2 separate regions of the Homo sapiens genome follow, and region 1 is linked to region 2. Evidence: fine-mapped expression QTL. Tissue or cell type: whole blood. Region 2 holds a variant in brackets; the other region holds the start of a gene. All regions are shown on one strand. Distances are between the middles of the regions.

Region 1 (10,706 bases), 120 kb after region 2:
GTAGTCCCAGCTACTCGGGAGGCTGAGGCAGGAGAATGGCGTGAACCCAGGAGGCGGAGCTTGCAGTGAGCTGAGATTGCACCACTACACTCCAGCCTGGGCGACAAAGTGAGACTCCATCTCAAAAAAAAAAAAAAAAGAAAAACAAGAAAAACCGGGCGGGTCCCCTCTGCATGGCTCGCAGGAGGCAGTCAAGCTTGCTGCATTCTGCACTCCTCTGCCCTCCAGAGGACCTTAACACACCATGCATCAACAATAAACATGCCCTGCTCCACAGAATTACCTGAAAGCAGTTCTTGGGAAACCTAAAAAGTATTCCCAGGAACACAATGTTGTAAGAGATGTGCACAGTCCTTGGACAGACACAAAAGCCCGTTCAATCAATAAAGAGACTCTGACAACATCCACTTTCAGGACTTGGAACCCTTCCCTTTTGCTCCCACAGGCTCCCATAGGCAGAAGCCCCCAGAGCCTGCACGGCCATATCCAGCACATGCACGGGGCTAATGTCTAGTTCGCTGGCCCCAGTCAACTATGGGTCACTCGGAAGACATGGGAGCAAGGTGACTGACTGTAAAAACAATGGTCGCTATGGGTGGTTCCCCTGATCTTTCCCTGAACTCACTCTCCCACCAGGTAGAACTGGAGGAGGAGGAAAGGAAATGGAGGGAACACAGATAGGGAAAGACGCTCCAAAACAAAACAGTGAAAAGGAAAATGCACTGATGGGACCTTCCAGGAGATGCCAGTAATGAAAGCGGCTGTATTACACACGGAAATCTGGGTCCAAACAGCTCAGAGACCACCAGCCACCCTAAAAAGGCCAATGGTAAGGCAGCTGGGGAGCTCGGCCCTGTGTGCTGGTCCTAAGTTCCCTGTCCACCCCAGGCTGTTTCTTGCTGTTCCCAGGCCCAGAATGTGACCTTGTCCCTCTTAATTTGCCTAGCTAACTCTGACCCGTCCCTCCCATCCCAGACCAACAGCATCGCCCCAGCAGGCAGCCTCCCTGCCACCCGGGGCTGATCCAGGCACCCTCCTGTGGGTCCCACTGCTCTCTGCCCTGACCTCCCATGCTGCCCTGACCCCACGGTTCAATCTGTTAATGTTTGAGCTTCCCGCTCCCTAGACTACAGCCTCCTCAAGGTCATGGGATCTATCCTTATCTGCAGGCCTCTGGGTTCAAAGCCAGGCTTCAAAATTGACGACGTGTGTGCGATGTTGGACAACATCCCTGCTCTCTGCTTCACTCTGCTCCTCTGTCAGCTAGGGATAGCAACATACGCCTGTGCTGCAGGGCTGTGTGAGAACTGCATCCACGATGCAAGCAAAGCCCTGAAGATCAGGCAAATCCATAATGAGTATCAACCACCTCCTCCACCTCTAGTGCCAAACACACCTGAGATGATAAAATACTGGTTGACACACTGCATGCCACCAAGGAGCTTGCTTTTGTCTGGAACACTGCATCCAGCTTATAAGCCTGCTCCTTAGAGAAAGCCTGCCTTCCAGTTCTACGGAACATCCAGGAAGTAAGCACCTTTAAATTCAGGTCTTGGGTTATTTGTGGAGTGAAGCAAGGTGAAGGCTCCTATCAGCAATGAGCCACCCTCCTCAAAGCTTCATTTCTCACCATTTCACTTTGGAAAAAATCCACTCTTCTGAAAGTTAAAATATTTTCTCTTGGGAAACAAACAAACCCTTACGAATGGTTGTACTTGGTGAGTCGTCCTGTAATATTTATTCTCCTGGAAAAAAAATATGATCCAACAGTACATTTTTATTTCTGGATCTTGGAAAATATTTACACCAACACCTCAGTTTTATCCTCAAAAAACTGGAGCCATCCAGGGAGGTTAAGACGCTGGCCCAGGGCCAGACAGCTGGGTCAGGAAATTGTAATAAGCTCTATCCTTCAGCCCCACTACCCAGCAGGTATGTGAGCAGTGGCTTCAATTTAATTTCTTCATCTAACTAAGAAAGGGTATTCATGTGTTTCAGTAATGCAGAAACAACGGAGAAAGGAGGCTAGTCTTGGAAATGATTACTTCTTAAAGAAAAGAAAGGCACCTCCAACTTCATTCTTCGATCTCAATGTTAGAAAATTCCCCAGAGAAAACACGGAGAGTCCCTCTTCCTTAGAAGCACTCCATTCCATTCCCCGCCTCTGGGCTGCCTCTGAGATCCCACATCCTGTGAAGCCAGGGGTTCCTTGCTCTAAGAGAGTCTGAGGGCTCAATATCATCCTGAATGGTTCCAGACCACCCAACGTGCAGGGCAGCGAGCACGGCTTCATCCTCTTCTATTGCAAGTGAGGTATGGGAAAAAAGGGACAGCAGACAGAACCAGAAAAGCTGATGCCAGGGCTGGACCAGCCACAGCTTTTCATGTGGCCTGGGCTACCTGACCCCTCCTTTCCAAGCTACGAGGTTCCCATGGTTACAACAAGGGTTCATAGGCCAGGTGGGTGCTGGCCCACCTGGTTCTGTGATTGTCAGTCTCCAAGGGCAGGCTTCCTTCCCATCTCTACCCCCAGAGGGAAAGGCTTCCAGGAGGGAGAAATGTGAACAAAAGTAGGCAGTGGGGCCACGTGGTGGACCACAGGGGAAAGAATGTTCTCAGAGGCAGGCAACGTAGCTTGTAGCTCCCAACCCTGCCGCCGCCTGCCAGAGTGGCACTTCTACCCCTGAACCTCAGCAGCTTCAGCCAAACAGTGTGAGGTCCCTTCAAAGTCCCAAACCACACTGAATCCCCAGGAGACGTGACTTACTCTAGCAACAGTCTGGATACAGGGATTACCAACTAGCAAGCTGAGGGCACTGGAATCTATTTATAAAATATATGCATTTTACAATGCTCTTTGAGTTTCCCAAATCCTCATGGCACAGATGACCTGGGGGTGCCTGCATCGTGCATTTGAGTTTGCCCTTCATTAGTTCCTCTTCCAGAGTTGCTGACATTAGAATCGGGAGCTCTTTAAAAACACAAACTGCAAAAATCAAATTGCACTGGGTCTGGAAAATTTCCATCCCATTAAAATTGGGTTATTTGCACCCATTTTCTCATGAGGTCCTCAATCCATCCACAGCCTTTGATGCCTGATGCAGGTGGAAGCCCACAGCCAGTGGGGGTCTGACTCGGAAGCCACAGTAAGGCACACCACACCATGCCTTCCCTTCCACGCAACACCGCGGAAATCACTCTAAAGCAGGGCTCAGATCACCCTCCTCCTCCAAAACCATCAATGGCTCCCACTGACACAGAGTCAAACCCAAAGTCTTGGCCTAGAATTCAAAGATTTCATGATTTATCCTCTTCTGACCCCTCTAGTCACATTTCCTTTGCACGCTTTAAAAATAAAAACAAAAATGTAAAAGGCATTAGAAAAGTGCAAAAAACAAGGTTCCCTAATCTCAGTACCGGAGAAGAGAATACAATAAAAAAGGCTGTTGTCTCCTTTGGAGCCACTGGGTGAATCCCCTGGGAAAGTTCACGGTGTCACACACCTTGTCCCTCCCCCTTCCTGCGCTGGAGCAGCTCTCTCTGGACAGAGGCCCTTCCTGCCACCTCTGACCTGCCCCACCTGCAAGCTTTGACTCAGACACCCCCTCCCTTGCAAAGGGGACTCCCTTTGCAGGGACACCCTGACTCCCTCCCTTCCCTCCTGGGGGCTCCCACAGCTCCACAGGCGTCTACACCAACTTACTTTCTACCTGGCATTTCATTTACAAATCCATCTTATCTGCCAGGCTCAACTCTCAACCCCAGCCCCATTCACTGGGGCATGTCCTCCTTCCATCTCCCAGGCCCCATTACGGGAAGTGTTTTCTTCCCAGGCTCTTAGTGCAGGAGCTAGACCCCCTCTCACCGCAGGGCAGCAGGGATCCACTGGGGATAGTTCCCTGGGGCCTTACCTCACTCCTCTGTTACCCCAGCCTTGATCCTGCAGGAGGCAGCGCAGGATGTTTGTTCAATGGATTTTTTTTTTTTTTTTTTTTTTTTTTTGAGACGGAGTCTCGTTCTGTCGCCCAGGCGGGAGTGCTGTGGCGCGATCTCCGCTCACTGCAAGCTCCGCCTTCCGGGTTCACGCCATTCTCCTGCCTCAGCCTCCCGAGTAGCTGGGACTACAGGCGCCCGCCACTGCGCCCGGCTAATTTTTTGTATTTTTAGTAGAGAGGGGGTTTCACCGTGGTCTCGATCTCCTGACCTCGTGATCCGCCCGCCTCAGCCTCCCAAAGTGCTGGGATTACAGGCGTGAGCCACCGCGCCCGGCCAGTTCAATGGATTTTAAAAATTATTATTCTCTAGAAAAAAGACCACGAACTTTGGAGTGGACATCCTGAGACCTGCCTACGAAGACCATTAGGGTAAAGAAGTCACCCCTTCACCCCAGGACCAGGAAGCCTCCAGGATGGCATAAGCGACCAAACAGCTGGGAGCCAAGCACAGTGCAGGGGGCTTGGGGTCGGCGGCCGGAGGCTGGGGTGGGTAAGACCCGCAGGGAACTCCGGGGCTCGGGCGGCGGCTCATTCCCCGGGAAAGGGCTCGCGGTGGGGACCAGGGGCAGTAGCAGCCGCGGACCCCGCGCGCAGGGGATGTGCGGGGCATCCTCTTGGCCAGTTCCGACCTTCCCCGCCGGTGGCGATGCCCCGGACGCGTCGTCCTTTCCCAGACCTCCTCTTGGGGCCGAGGCTCCAGCCCCAGGGTCTGCGGGCGGGGCCGCGAACCTTGAAAGCCCCCGCCGCCAGCTCGCCCGCGGGACCCTGGCCCGGGGCGCCCTGTCCCGCGCCGCAGCGCAGACCCGCGACCGCGCAGGGCAGGCAGGGGGACGCCAGGTCCCTAAGCGCCCACTGCCCTGGGGCGCGGGCGCCGCCTGCGAGAGGCAGGGCAGGGCAGGAGCAGAGCAGGGACGAGGTCAGGGACACGGGCAGGGCAGGGCGGGCGTCCTCTGAACGGAGCCCGCGAGTCCCCGCCCGGGACGCTGCCCCCCGCCCGCTGCCACCGGGCGCCGGGGCAGGACCCAGCGGGGCAGGCGCGGCCGCAAGCCCCGAGCCCCAAGGCCGGCCGCGCAGCGCCGCGTCCCGCCCTCCCCGCTCCGCGGCCGGCCCGGGCGATGCGGACACAAAGGGGACGCGCGTCACTCTACCTGGGCCTGCTCGTCCGCGGTGCGCGGCTCTGACGCCTCCGCCCGGTACTGGCTGCGGGGTGCCGGGTGCCCGCAGTTTGCCGCCCGCGCCTCCCCGCGCCCGCGCAGCCCGCACGGCCCGCACTGCAATGCCAGCCCTGCCGCCTCCCGCCTGCCGAGAGCCCGCGCGGGGAGAAGCGGCTGCGCGGGCGGGGCGCGAGCGCGCACAGAGGCCGGGCACGCGGGAGGCTCGGCCCCGGCCCCGCCCCCGCGCCGAGCCGCACAGCGCCCCCTGCCGCCCGCCTGCGCCGGCCCGAGGCCCGGAGCCGCCCCGCAGGCCCCAGGACAGGCTCCGGCACGAGGAGGGGCTGCGGAGACCGCCCGTGCACGCTAACATGAAAATGCTATTCCTGCTTTAGTGGCCTCCAGAAGACACTCCCCTGATTCCTACACCGAGGGAACACACAGCAGCAAGCTAGGAAAGAAGGGGTGACCCAGCCCAACGCTGTAAACCAGGGCGCGAACCGGCGTTGAGCTGTGCAGCTGCGCCCTGGGCTCCAGTCCTGCTCTGCCGCAGACCCCACCGGAGCCAGCACCTGCCTCCCCGACCCTCGCTGGGGCGGCTGTGAGATGAGCCCAGAGCCTTCCTGAGCCAACCCTCGCAAGGAAAGTCTGTCTGTTCACCCCACTATCCTTGTCTTGAAGGATGAAGAAAAGAGGGCCCCCCGGGAGGTCCCAAAAGGTGGAATGGACATCTGGGATCCAAGCACAGCAATTTCTTTATTTTTCTTAAGGTATCCAGCTTGTTGGAATCTAAGATCTGCGAAGGTATTAATAGAATTCCTGCATCTTCTGCCACTCCCCATAGAAGCTTGAAGTTACACAAATGTTAAATTATACGTCAGATGTGCATATATGAACAAAACCTACGAGTGTGCATGAAATAACACCTTCTTAAATATATAGATTCTTTTTTCTGCAATATTAAATGGAAACCCCACTAGAACATCGTTTTTCCTTAATAGCATACCCTCCACACTGTGTGGTCTAAATTCAAGCTCTACCACCTACTAGCCATTAAGCAAGTTATTAAGGTCTTCGTGCTTCCATTTTCTTACGTGGAAAATGAGGTGGCAATAGTATGTATGAGTTCTTCGGAGGGATTAAACAAGTCAAATAGGCCAAGTGCCATGGCTTACACCTGTAAGCCCAGCACTTTGGGAGGCCAAGGCAGGAGGACTGCTTGAGCCCAGGAGGTCAAGGCTGAAGTGAGCTGTGTTTGCATCACTGCACTCCAGCCTGGGCAGCAGAGTGAGACTTTGTCTCTCAATAAATAAAGAAATAGTCAAATTAAATATAACTGGCAAACTAAAACAACTCCATAGTCCTTAGCTACAATTTGTCTCATTTCTCCAAAGAATTAAATCAGATGATTCTTAACTAACTCAAAGCTCTGCATAATTTGTCTTCTGCTACACATACATCTTTATAGTAAAATAAAATAAAGCTGTCCCCTCTGTATTGAGAAGTTATTCTGGTAAATATTTGACCTCTTCAAATATATGAACGAGCACTTGCCTTCTAATGCCTCAGTTTCAGATTCTTTTTAGAAATGTCATTATTCAAGAAAAATGCACAATGGGAAGAATCTTAACAACAGCACTTTGTTACTTCAGCCTCTCACTAGAGGATGAAAATCGTTCTGCATAAAGGCCTGGGCTTTATGAAAAATATATTCACACCTCCCGTGTCCGAGCTGGGATACCAAAGAAGTTCCTGGTTGAGTACTACTTATGAATGAAGGATTCAGGGGATGCACAGGTGGGTGACTGCAAATGCACAGACGTTGTGCTGTGTTCCCCACAATAAAGGGGTCTGTATTAAGATGCAGGCATTCTCATGGAACACAGACGTATAACACTCAAGCTGGGGGACTGCAAAGGAGCATCTGGGGCTGCAGGAAGAGAGTTAAGGTGCAAAAATGCCCTGACCCAACTGAGACTTGTAATTGCTCATGTGGTAATACATGTGACTTCATTCCCCTGCTCTGTCTTTGTGAATGCAACCATTGTTGGGGAGATAGTGAGAGGGGACACTGGCATTGAAAGTTTTGTTTGCAGCAGGCCTCAAAAGGCACTCAGATGCAGATTTCCCTGCAAAGACTTCCCGGCCTATCATGGAGTTCCCCATCCCTAGATCTCTGATCTCTGAGCTGGTGTAATACTTAGTCTTTGTCTGTGTTGATCATGGCATCTGCCACACTTAATGTTTGTGGCATTCACTTTCTGATGCTTAGATCTTACGATTCTAGAGAACAGCATTTTTCTACATATTCCCTCTTAGGGCCTTGAACATAATAAGTGCTCAATAAATACTGAGTGAAATCCTCTACTCTGAGCTTTGCCTCTGAGCAGCTGTCCTAGTTCTCTCCAACAAGAAGTTTGTTGGGTCTCTCAAGTTCACTTCCACCTGTCACTGTCAGTTTTCAGTCCAGCCCCTTACTCAGGTCTGGCTGGCCCATCTCCCCCAGAGGGCTGTCCCATAGAGCCCATTGTAAAGGACACTCATTGTTGCCAAGAGTTTGTGCCAATGCAGTATGACTCACCCTTCACTCATTGAACAAGCTCTTCCTGATTACCTAGATGGGCAAAATTTCCCTGCTCATGCGAAGCAGGCTGGCGACTCAGTGCTGCAGCAAATGGCCCAGAAGCTGGGAAAGCAGATAGCCGTTCTGACACTTCTCTTCTAGACAGAAAATCAAGGGAAGCTCAAGACCCACACTTGAATTTTTTTTAAAAAATTAGACAAGGGGCTGGGTGTGGTGGCTCATGCCTGTAATCCCAGCACTTTGGGAGGCCGAGGCAGGCAGATCACCTGAGGTTGGGAGTTCAAGACCAGCCTGACCAACATGGAGAAACCCCTGTCTCTGTTAAAAATACAAAATTAGCCAGGCGTGGTGGCACATGCCTATAATCCCAGCTACTCGGGAGGCTAAGGCAGGAGAATCGCTTGAACCCCAGAGGCAGAGGTTGCGGTGAGCCGAGATCGCACCACTGCACTGCAGCCTGGCAACAAGAGCGAAACTCAGTCTCAAAAAAAAAAAAAAAGAAAGAAAAAGAAAAAGAAAAGAAAAAAAATTAGACAAGGAAGTTTATGTGAATTTGTAATCACACATTCCATAAATATAGAAAATTCACTTTTTTTATTTTAAAAATTAACAAATTCCATTTCTTGTTTCTCTAGAGTAGCAGGAAATCAAATGTCAGTTCTCATTCTGACTTTCTCTCCTTAAGGACACAGAGGAATCTGGGGGATATTATGGTTCTGGGAATGTGGAATGTAACGTCTCATCTTCAGCCCATCTGTGCTACTGATCATCTCATTCCAGAAGCCATGCCTTCTCTCAGGAGCAGACAGCACAAGACTTTCCTGCCAGAGGCACAGTCCCCAGGTGAGCCACACAGCCTTCACAGGGTAATGCCAAAGAACAGAGGAGAGTTCCTGCTACTCTCCGGGTCTTCTTGGCAAAGCTTCTGATACAGTCTGGCTGTCTCTCCACCTGAATCTCATCTTGAATTGTAGCTCCCATAATTCTCGTATGTCATGGGAGGGATCAGGTGAGAGGTAACTGAATCATGGGGGTGGGTCTTTCCTGTGCCGTTCTCGTGACAGTGAATAAGTTTTATGAGATCTGATGGTTTTATAAAGGGGAGTTCCCCTGCAAATGTTCTTGCCTGCTGTGACTTTGCTCCTCCTTGCCTTCCGCCGTGATTGTGAGGCCTCCCCAGTTATGTGGAACTGTGAGTCCATTAAACCTCTTTTTCTTTATAAATTACCTAGTCTCAGGCATGTCTCTATTGGCAGTGTGGGAACAGACAGACTAATACAGCTTCCCTTGTCTGTACTCTTACCCTTCTCCCTTCAAAAGCATCCTCTCTTTCTTTTCCAACCTTTCCAACCTCTCGAATAATCTCTGCAGTGGGAGTAGCATCCACATAAGACAGGATGCAGAGATGTCTTCAAGCAGCTTCAAACAAAACTTCAAGAAAGAAAGTGCAAGTGAAAAAGGAAATTCATCCTTCCAGTCACTTAACACAGCACTGTCACGGACACCTTGTGCCTCCTTAAAATTCGTATACTGAAGTTCTAAGCCCCAGTACCCCAGAATGTGACCTTCTTTGGAAATAGGGTCATTGCAGATATGATTAGTTAAGAGGAGATCATACTGGAGTGGGCTTTAATCCAATATGACTGGTGTCCTTATGTAAAGGGGAAATTTGGACACAGACACACACAAGGAGAACACCATGTGAACTGAAGTCAAAGATTTGGGTGATGCTTCTACAAGCCAAGAAATGCCAAAGATGACCAGCAAAGCACCGGCAGCTGGTGGAGGAGCCTGGACCAGATTCTTCCTCACAGCCCTCAAAAGGAACCAATCTTGCCAAAGCTTTGACTTAGACTTCTAGCCCCCTGTGATGGTTAATGTTAAGTGGCAGCTTGACTGGGTTAAGGGATGCCCAGATAGCTGGTAAGACAGTATGTCTGTGTGCATCTCTCAGAGTGTTTCTGGACAAGATCAGCATTTGAATCCTTAGAGTAAAGAAGATCTGCCCTCACCCACGTGCATCACCCTATCTCTGGAGAGCGCGAACAAACAGGAGGAAGGGCACATATGCTCCTTCTGTTCCAGCTGGCACATCCATCTTCTCCTGCCCCCTGACTTCAGAGCTCCTGGTTCTCGGGCCTCAGGATTCCAGCACTTACATGAGAGCGTGCTTCCCCCTCCCTACTCCACCCCTAGGTTCTCCGCCCTTTGGCCTCTGACTGAATTCCACCACCAGCTTTTCAGGGTCTCCAGCTTGCAGACGGCAGATCGTGGGACTTCTTGGCCTCCATAATTATGTAAGCCAATTCCCATAATAAATCTCCTATCTATCTATCTATCTATCCATCTATCAATCATCTATCTAGTCTATCTATCTATCTATCTCTATCCTATTGATTCTGTGTCTCTGAGGAACCCTAATACACCTCCAGAACTGTGAGATGATACATTTCTGTGGTTTAAGCCACTCAGAAGGTGGTACTTTGTTTCACCAGGCCTAGCAAACTAATACAAGTGCATGGAAGGTGACTACTCATGACTGCAACTTAGAGAACAAGGGTTATAATAAAAATAAAAGTGTTATACAAAGGTGGCAAGATAAATGACAATAAATGAAAATATTAACATGTGAATTAAAAAGTAAAGATATTTTTCCTAGCATTCTCCCAGAAAGTAGAGACGCGTCTCTCTTGTTTGCCATCATATCCAGCAATGGCAAGATAAGTTCTAGGCACTTCATAAAAATTTGTTGAATGAAAGAAATGAATCTTCTGTGGTTCTTTATTAACCGGATCTTCTATGCATGGCTCAAATGCAAGCTCCGTAGATTCTACTTAGAACTGAAAAGGACCCAAGAGAAAGTTTTGTCTGATCTTTTCACTTCACTTATGGGAACACTGAGGTTTACCGAGGCCATGCCAGATCCAGGATCCCTGCTTGCTCAAGGCACACATGGTAATATTACAGAAGGCTGAT
Region 2 (10,706 bases):
TTAAACCCCTGGATAAAAGGAACATGGAGTCCAACTGTCAGAAGCTTTTGAAACGTTATTCCCTTTTGCATTTTGGGCTTTTCATAAAAGTTGTGATAAGCTGATAAATTCTGAGAAGTGAGAAGAGACTACCCCTTGTTGGATCTTTCTTGTGCAGTAAAAAACACATCACATGTACTCACGTTCTGAATGAATTCTGTTAAGTCAGTGAGAAAAAATAAGAATAAATAAAAATATATTTTAAAAAGACCCAGATAGTTGCCTAGGAGAACAAGTGAATGACTTTTGATACTGCAAATTCAGATTTTCCAATATGAAAATATTGACTCCATTTTTCTTTGCATTAACCACAGGCTGTACGCACAACCACTTCCTTGCACCCCTGGGTAGCATGAGCCATGATGTGAGCTGTTCGTTTCTCAGGTCCTACAAGGAAAACAGGAGGGAAGAGGGTCCTTCTGTGCTTGAAGCAGGAGTGCTGAGTGGGTACCCTTGTTGGGAGCCTCATCCACATTCACAGTGGAACTGCATGAGCAACTTAATATTTTATCACCAAAATGTACTCTATGTTTTACTTGTCATTTCCTCATTTATCCTCAGAAAAATCCTGTGCAAGACTTTTTATCCCAATGTTCAAACAGGAAACAGGTGCTCCCAGGCTGTCACATGCACGGGAAGTCACCCTCCTGCGATGTGGCTCCAGCCTTCCCTGGCTATAGCAGCCACTGCAGCTCTCCACCCTGCTGCTCTGGGCCCCATTCGATGTTGGCTTCATCCGAAAATGCACATCCTGGGTGACTTTAGCTAGAGAAGAGCGAGTAGCCAACACCAGGTCGTGGGCAGCAATTGCTGTTTTTAAATGGCTGAGTTGCTCACTGGTATAGACAGAGATGAGCTGAGCTGAGCTGAGTAATGGACACTGTCTTGTGGTCGAGCCACATCAGCAGTTATAATCTCTCATGTACCTCCTGCAAACAAGTCAAGTTTAGAATACCTTCTAGATAAGCACATGCTATCAAAGTCTGTGCCATTCCCACCTTCTATGCCCTGTAATTTGGGTTCCTCTAAGAGTTGATAAGACTCTTTGCTGGCAAATTTCTTTTTCAATTTTTAGAAACAAATATATGTACCTAGGTAGACACAGAAATATGGATTTATTTTGCTTAACCATCATTGTTTTTTGGCAGTGTTTTCTGGGGGGCAATTCCTACATTCCAGGCCCGCTTCAAGAATTGATGTGCAACCCAGCGTAGGGAAGAACTGCTTCTGGACTGCACCTGAGGCAGCACCACCGGCAACGGAGCCCCGCCACCTGCTGTACCCGTCCACCTTCTCTGGTTGACCTCCCTGGGGCCAGACAGCCCACTCAGAGTCCGTGCTCCCTCCTATGGAGGTGAGTTGTGTTTCCCACAAAAAGTGTTGAAGCCTAACCCCCAGAACCTGTGAACTTGACCTTATTTGTAAATAGGGTCTTTGCAGATGATCGAGTGAAGATGAGGTCATCAGGGTAGGCTCTAATCCAATATGACTTTGCCCTTAGATGAAGGAGCTGTGTCCACAGGCGTGCACACAGGGAGAACGCCGTGGGAACCTGCAGGCAGAGACTGGGGGTGCATCTACCAGCCAAGGAACACCCAGGACTGCCAGCAGTACCAGGAAGTTGCAGAGCAACACGGGCATCCTCCTTACCGCTCTCAGAAGATTCCAGCCCTGCAGATACCTGAACCTTCAGTTTCCAACCTCCAGACCTGGAAGACAGTAAAGCTCTGTTGTTGTAGCCCCTGGTGTGTGGTCCTTTGTGACAGCAGCCCTAGGACCCTAACTCACTCCTCCCACACAGCCTTTATCATGAAGGTCCAGTTCCTGAGTTCGGCACACTGTGCCCCCACCAGGTCAGACATTTGAGTAACTCTCCAACCCCGACACGCCAGTTGGACCAAACTCTGTGCGCTTGTTGAACTGGGCCCTTCCTTTGAACACACTTCTCAGTTTTGCTTGGCTAGTTCCTACTTGTCTACAAGAGCGAGCTCATACATGGCGTCCTCTGGACAGCCTTCCCTGACCTTCCGGCCTGGCCGAAGGGCTGTGCTGTGCCCGCAAAGCCTGCTGAGCGTGCGTCTACCATTGAACTTATTCCACCTTCTTATGATAATTGACTGACTTATCTGTCAACCCCTTGAGACTAAGAGCTCCTTGAGGGCAGATATATTGAGTCTTCAGTGCCCACTATGAATCACCAGTTAACAAAATCCACTCCCTTAATGTGCACCTGTAGATATAAAGAATGGATTTAAAACTTAAACACAGGACAAGGAACCAGTTGCCTATTCCAGACTTGAGCATCATATGAACGCATGAGGTATAGATTCTCCTCCAAGCTGGAGTGAGGTGAATGAAAATCAAGGTGAACCACCACATCTTCAGCTCATTATTATCTCTCCTACGAAATGAGAAGGATCCATATTTATTCCACTTTCTCCCCACCCCCAGCAGATAAAGGATGCCTCCTGATTTTCATGCTGCAACTCATAAAATGTGACAGGTCTGTAAGGAACTTGTCTTTGCGGATGGAAGCAGAGCGCCCTGAGTGGGGATGAGATGCTTCCTGATGCTGCAGTACCGGTTGGGCACCACAAGAGGGAGCCAGGAATGGCTGGACGGGTTGATACACCCAACAAACCAAGTAATTTTGGCATCTAGGAGTTGAGAACATTCCTAAAACAGAAAATCTCAGGATACAAGAGCTGTTTTCCCAGTGATATAAGATCCCTCCCCTGCCTCACCCTTTCTCCCTCCACCCCCAGTTCCCACATTGAATATTTTCAATCTTCAATAGATTAAATATTGAAGACTGAAGATAGAATATTTTCCATCTTCAGGCCAGTAGTCAGATAAGCATCTACAAAAGACGGAGCCACGCGGGGTTTACAAAAGTCACCTGTATTCCAGCCAAAATAGCTTTAAAAAGGAATCCCTGCTAAAGGGGGGGACAAACTACGTAAGACACAATACATTTAAAATATGTATTGAAATTACAAATCAAACTTTTTCCATATGATTCCAGAGTACAAAACACAACATTAAAAGGCATTCAAACAGCTCTTTTATACATCACAGTGTTAGTGGCACAAAATGTACTGACATTTCAAAAACACAAATCAAATCTGTTTTGATTTTGTTTCACCACCACTTGTCAAATACATAACGTATACATGTGCATGACTCATTCATGCATATTTTTATACAAGATTAAAATACACCCATAGTAAAGTGAGCAAAGAAGGAAAGAAAGGGCAGGCATGGGGCATGTAGCTACCCCTCACTGAAGGCTCCGGAACTGTGGAAGACAGAATTGCACAAATCAAAGGAAGGGTGGAGACCCTGGGTTTTTTAAACATCAAGACGGCATGCTCTCCTAGTTGTGAAGCATTAGCAATTAGGTTTTAACGCAGGCCCCTTTGTTCCTTTTGGTGTTTTTGGTAATACCTGTCATAATCCCTTCATTTTGTTTATTTTCATAAGGGCTTAGGTTAATTATCAGAAATAAACAAGCTTTGGTATTTTTTAAAGAGAACTTCATGAAGCTTTACACATGCAAAATGTTTTCCCTTGATGATCTCCTTGTGATTTATATATATACACAGGTGTGCTCACTAATAAATGAGAATCTGAGACACACACACAAAGCCCATCCTGGATCCTTTCAATCCCCTAATTTTTAAAGACTACCAAGAAAAAAATGTTTTTTTAATTTGTAAAATGACTTCTAACTTTTGCAATACAAATGAAAACAATAAACTCATCTTGAAGTAATTTTTGCATCTCTGATAGTCCCTCCCACAGGTCCTGTGTTCTAATCAGGAACTGGCCTGTGCCCTAAACTGGTTTTATGGAATAATATGTTGTCAAGATCATTTGTTCCCCTTTAAGAAAATAGGCCGGGTGGGGTGGCTCAGGCCTGTAATTCCAGCACTTTGGGAAGCCGAGGTGGGCAGATCACCTGAGGTCAGGAGTTTGAGAGTAGCCTGGCCAACATGGTGAAACCCCGTCTCTACTGAAAATACAAAAATTAGCTGGGTGAGGTGGTGGGTGCCTGTAATCCCAGCTACTTGGGAGGCTGAGGCAGGAGAATCGCTTGAACCCGGGAGGCAGAGCTTGCAGTGAGCCGAGATCCTGTCATTGTACTCCAGCTTGGGGGACAAAAGCGAAACTCCGTCTCAAAAAGAAAAAAAAAGAAAGAAAATGCCAGAGGTGGCAGATGTTGGTTCCTCTGTCCACAGCTACTCCTATGAGTTGAGGAGGAAGAACTAATTTGGACAGTTATTCCTGCAATCCGATGCTTTATCTCAGATCCTAAGTCAGTCTCTGCTACGTGGACATCTATGGTGACTGCATCTTTGCAAGGTGCTGACCTCCTATGAGGCTGCAAGCTCATCTGGCTGGGCTATGGACTACACAGCAGAGCCAGACTGAGAGGTCAGGCATTTCCAGCAAAACCTCCAAATGTGGTCAGTTACTCAAGGGCCTCAGAGAAGCCACAGGTCCACTGGGCTAAGGCCAGTCCTCACTGGCCACCCACCCTGGGCGGCAGTACAGCAGCCATGGTTGTCTAAGGGCCTTCGCCCCTTACTCCCCAGGATTAAAGGCCTCTTAGTGAACACATGCCATATGCTTCTGGGGCTTGCAGTGAACACCATCTGTAAGAGTGAATGCCATTTTTCAATGGAGACAAATTATGCCGCTTCACAGGAATAAGTCCGTCCACTCAACGCAGAACTCCCCAGGTTTTACTGGGGAATGATGGCAAGATCAAAGTCCAAACCCAGGGCCATCTGCCTGTGTGCTATTTCCATTTTACATCAAGCAGGGTTCATACTGTATTCCCATCAAAGATAAGTCTGGCACTCCTTACTAAAACAGAAGGAAATGCGAGTTTATGTATCTCAGAGTGATCTTGCTGGTATTTATATAGGAAATGGACAATTTTAATTTTATATCTAGATCAAAATGAGGAAACTGAGGCATGCTTCATACAAAAAGTCAGAGCCAGTAGGTGCCAATTTGACTGCCCCTGGCTGGCCCCAGAATCTCTGTGGTCCCTATCTGGGTTGAACTACGTGCTTGTGAAACACATCAGAGGTGAAGGCACAAGGATGGCTGGGGCTACAGATGTGCATGACTGGGCCAGAGACTCTTCCAACAGAACAGCCTGTCCCTCTAGAAATAAGGTCATCTGAGCTCTAGCCCTGGGGATGCAGCCTTTCCAAAGGCTCTGACTCTCATCCTAAGGACGGGGGTGCTACTGTGTGGGCTCATGCGATGGGCAGCAGCAATTTCAGGCAGGAAGGATGAGCATATGGTGGAGGCGTGTCCTGTGGGCCACTGGACACAGGGCCACAGGCCTCCCATGTGTGCTGGGCATGTTAAAGGGCAGTGGCTGGACAGCTGCATCCACATATCACAGGCTGAGGGCTCAAGCCCAGCCAATGACTCCCGCGTGGAGTTGCCACCCACCTCCAGAAAAGCTATTCTAACAGTAGACACCATCACAGCACCACAAACGACAGAGAGCCACAGCCCAGGTTCCATCCAGAAAGGGAGTCGCAGGCATGTTCTTACTGAGTTACTAAACTTGCAATTACAAGGAGAGCTTTTTGAATGTAATTTTGACACA[C/T]AGGGATTTTCTAAATGGCTTCGGGTTCATAAGGAAAATCAACATGACAGGTGAAGAGTGAGGTGACGCTGTTTTTTCTAACGAATTCAATGTTAGGAAATAAGAAATAAATTTCCAACCAGGGAAAGTAAACTAGGACCTGAGACTGATACTCAAATGCAGAAGTCAAACACACACAAAGCAACATTTTAAAAATGTGCTTGTGATGGGCAAATAACTGAGATAAAAGGATTTTGTTTTACTTCTTTATAGAATGTTTAACAAGATTTTTAAAATCCCACTGTAATATAGCTACAATATTTGCCTGTTATTTTTAGAAGTTTTAAATTCAATGCAGTTTGCTTTGTAAAAGCACCTGTGGCTTTTAGAAGTAAATTCTCTTTAAAGAATACACTTTCTCCACTTTTCAAAGTCAATTGGTGGAATAATGTGTATGTGTCCTTATTAATCCCTGCATCCTGCTGCCATGGAAATGGTCACAGACAGCCCTGTAAAAGATCAAGTGGTAAAATCCCCACGTTAAAACGAAGTGAAATGGGAGGTTCTTTTCCCCAACAAGAGCAAAACGGTTAGCAACAGGACTTGGAACTGTGTAAGATATATGATTTCTCAAAATGACTAGAACATTTTAAAAATGTGAAAATCTGGCAGGCTCTTCCCTAGCCCCCAGAGTCCTCCAGCCTCTGCCAAGAGGCCCCTACATCTGCGGATCAATGAGGCTGCTTTCTTCTTACTGTCTATCTGAAGACTGAGGCCAGAGGCCAGACGGCAGCAATTCGGAGGAGAACCATTGCCGAGCAAAGCAGTGGGATTGAATACAATAAAAAGCGTTTTCTGCTACCTGGGAGAGAAGGGATGAGGCCCATGAGCTGAGCTGAATCACCAAAGAGAGAAAACAACAAAAGGCAAATCTAATGGAGATGAGATGTTCCTTTAAACACGTCAATATTATCAAGGAAATGCAACAATATAGGAAGCACACTTATAACAGTACACAGCTTACAGCGTTCAAAAAGTTACTACAGCAAGTTTCAAGAAAAACACAAAGAGTGCATAAGGCTTTCTAAATCTCCTGAAAAGTCGTTTAACTATAACTTCTTAAAATGCACATTTCAAGAAAGGCATAGGATGGTTTATATGCACCTTGTTGATTTTCACTACTCAGTTGGAAAAAAAATACCTTCTAAAAAGGATTTTACTAAATGCCATTAGTAATAAAAACAGTTGTCATAAACAGAGTGCTTCTCTCAAGCTGGAATAATCAGATTCTGTCTGAAGAGAGTGGCAGTCCTTAAAAGACTTCTCTGACAACATGGTGCCATCTAGAAGCCAAGGAGCAGAAAGTCTCTTAGGCCATCCCCAGACATGCCTAGTCTACCACAGAGAGAAAGCTGCCTGGTGCACTTCTCACAGCACCTCCCTGTCATCTGCAGAGATTGATCTGTGGGGATGTGCGCTACCCACACCTGCCTCCCCTCCCCACCACACCTGGGGCCTCAGCGAACATTGTGACATAGGTCCCTGAAATCACGGCGTCCAGCCTGACACTGTGAAGCTCAATGGGGCACATAAGGCAAGAAAGATGTTTAGTGAAGGGGGGACGGTGGGGAGGGTTGGGGGAGAGCCACACTTCCCGGAGGCAGGGATGTGTTCCAGCATCGCGCTTCCTCTAGGTGGGTAACGGGTCGTCGTCACCTTTACTGCACTTGCACTTGCAGCAAAGTACAAAGGGAGTGGCCAGGAGTAGGAAAGGTGAGGCCACCAAGAGCAGCAGCCCAAATCCTGCAAAAATGCCCACAACCTGGAAGAAAGAAACAAAGGGGTAGAGGTAAGGAGGGCTGGTCTGTAGGTTCCAGAGCTAAAGTGTAAACCACACAACCAGCTACCCATCCATCCATCCATCCATCCACCCAACCATCCATCTATCCATCCATCCATCTACCCATCTAGTCATCATCTACTCATTCATCCATTAACCATCATATATCTCTCTATCCATCCATCCACCTACCCATCCATCTATCCATCCATCCATCTACCCATCTAACCATCATCTACCCATTCATCCATTAACCATCATACATCTCTCTATCCATCCATCCACCTACCCATCCATCTATCCATCCATCCATCTACCCATCTAACCATCATCTACCCATTCATCCATTAACCATCATCCATCTCTCCATCCATCCACCTACCCATCCATCTATCCATCCATCCATCTACCCATCTAGTCATCATCTACCCATTCATCCATTAACCATCATCCATCTCTCTATCCATCCATCCACCTACCCATCCATCTATCCATCCATCCATCTACCCATCTAACCATCATCTACCCATTCATCCATTAACCATCATACATCTCTCTCTCCATCCATCCACCTACCCATCCATCTATCTACTCATCCACCCATCCATTTACCCATCCATCCAACCATCCACCCACCCATCAATACCTAGCCATCACCCACGCATCTATCCATCTAACCATCATCCATCTATCCATCCACTCTCATCCATCTATCCATCCATCCATCATCCATGCATCCATCCACCCATTCACCCACTCACCCACCCATCTCTTTATTCATCCACCTATCCACCCATCTACCCATCCATCCACCCATCCACCCATCTATCCATCTAACCATCATCCATCTGCCCATCAATTCACCAGTCTATACCCTTCCATTCATATACCCACCATCTACCCACCCACCCACTCATCTGCCCACTATATATCCATCCACCGACTATACATTCTTCCCTTCATTTTTCCCTCATTCTTCTTTTCCACCTCTTCCTTTCCCTTCCTTCTCTCTCTCCACCCTTTTCCATCTAAACACCCAAACATCCATACATCTATATATCCTATTAACTAACAAGTTTCCTCTCAGCAGCCACCCTGACCCAGACACTGCACTTGACACTGCAAATACAGAGGTGCATACATCTTGGCCCTCGAGGAACACCCTGTCTGGCAGAAAAAGACCAAGATCTAATCAACTGATAACAAGACATTCTACAGAAACTGCCATCAGGTTCCAGGGGTGCAGCCCCACACACCCCCGCCATGTGAGTGACAGACACCATTTGCTAGGGGAAAGGAGGGTTTCCAATGGCAGGTGGCTGAGATAATGGAGACAAGCAGGTTGTTACTACAGAAGAAAGACTGGAATAGTGCATTTCCGACGAGAAAACAGAAAAGACACAGGCATGGTGCATCAGAGAATGACCTGGCCCCCTGTCCTTCCTGGAGTCTAAAGCCCAATACTGACTGTTACGTATTTTGATTTTTGCTTGAAAACATGTTTATCCCTAGTTATGAGTAAAGGCCAAAAGAAATAAGCCTCAAATGCAGACATGCCATCATCTGAGTCAGGCGGCATGGCTGGTCAAAGAGGCACAGAGCCTGCTTTCCAGCCGGCCTCGCCATTCACAGAGTCCCAACCCAGGCAGGCAGCCTGCAGAAATGAGAGCGAGGACAGGGCTAGACCGCCACCTAGTGTTCAGTGTGGCCAGTAAATGCAAGCACCAGCACATGGTTCTCATTCCAACTCAGCCTTCACTTCTCCCTGGGTCTGTTTTCTCATCTATAAAATAAACAAATGAAGTAAAAGATCTTTACGGGCCATTATCAGCCCTAAAATATGAGACTCTACTAAAGCATCCCAGATGTGTGGAACAAAGTATACCTCGACTGAGATTTCTCCTGAAAATCAACACCAACACATGCACACGTACGTGCATACGTGTATAAATTAGATTGCATTTAATAAATTATGCCACATTGCATTTATACATTGGATTGTGCTAATGCTGGGAATCCATGCCTGCTGCCCAGCTGGCTACGTTCATTTGTCTGAACAACATATCAACGGTGGAACTACCCAGTGTGAATTCAGGTTGTGCTTTACTGAAATCACGTGCACGCTGATATGCAGAAGGCATAAAACATGCAGTAAGCTCTACCCTATTTGAAGGGAAATTTTGAGCAACCTCGACTACCTGGCACACAACTGTCAGTCTTGAAAGAGCCACACATTCTTTGCAGTCAAAATAATGCCAAAATCCTGGACCAAATGATCACATTCTTAGCCAATCACACACCATCTTCGCTTTTCACTCAGTCTACCTCGTCTCTAAATTTGCCTGCTGTTTGAGAAGCCGGGTTACCCAACGTATTGCCAATTGGTGACAGGCAGATGCAGGTACTGCCAGTTACGCAGCCAGCAGTAAAAAATGAGACAGGAAGCAAATATCACAAAGCAAAAAGAACCACTGTGTGTGTGTGCTGTGGATGTGTGTCAGATACTTGATCACAGAAGGCAGAGGGATGGGTAAACAGTTTCAGGCTCCAGAGAGAATCTGTACAGCACAGCTTCGTTCGTACTGGCAAACCCTAAGATTTAAAGGAACAGTTACCCCTTCCCATGAAGTTTCTTAGATGTGTGCTACTTAAAGCCAGAACACTCTTTCTGCAAACCATTCTAAGTTCCCATGCACAGCCCGGCACCTCTCATAATCAATGTCCGACCCAGGTTTATGGGACGAGCCAGTTGAAACTGACAAGGTTCTGAATGGCTGCCCCCAGAGAATTCTTGTACAAACCACATTCAAGGGCTTGGAAAACTAAGCCAAAATCTGAGATCTGGTAAGGTGAATGGAACACTATTAATTCACTGAAACTAGGTAACTGAAGGTGGCACAGACAAGTTCAGAATCACAGTATCATATTTGATCCCTGGATTATAATCCAGTCTAATTTTCTCATTTCACAGATGCAAAATCTATACCCAAAAAGCTATTCCAGAGGTCCAATATTTGTTTAAAACAGACAGAGCTTAGCATCCTGGTGTAAGTACAAGAGATAGATCGTGCCTATTTCACTGATCTCAGTGAGAAATACCCTTAGAACAGTCACTGCATGTGGCTTCCAGGACATAAGCATTTCTGGAAGGAACACCTGGTCCTTCGGCTCAGTCTCTGAAACTATCACTGTGCACCCCTCCACGGATGCATG

Evidence for each region.
Region 1: RNF144A starts here. The variant in region 2 is fine-mapped to the expression of RNF144A in whole blood (TOPMed, PIP above 0.99).

The regions. Positions count from the first base shown.
Region 1 is chr2:6,912,060-6,922,765 of GRCh38, reverse strand. It overlaps RNF144A (ring finger protein 144A), which reads right to left and starts at 5,354. Exons shown (of 9, transcript NM_014746.6): 1 at 5,144-5,354. It overlaps GRASLND (glycosaminoglycan regulatory associated long non-coding RNA), which reads left to right and starts at 4,084. Exons shown (of 5, transcript NR_033997.1): 1 at 4,084-4,364; 2 at 5,542-5,916; 3 at 6,799-6,943; 4 at 8,416-8,573; 5 at 9,102-10,490. RefSeq lists a silencer at 5,025-5,514.
Region 2 is chr2:7,036,398-7,047,103 of GRCh38, reverse strand. It overlaps RNF144A (ring finger protein 144A), which reads right to left. Exons shown (of 9, transcript NM_014746.6): 9 at 2,925-7,475. The coding sequence ends at 7,344. Among named protein-coding and RNA genes, the nearest start is that of GRASLND, 120 kb to the right of the region's middle. RefSeq lists a silencer at 2,732-3,026 and an enhancer at 9,052-9,346. The variant C/T (reference allele first, on the strand shown) is at 5,675.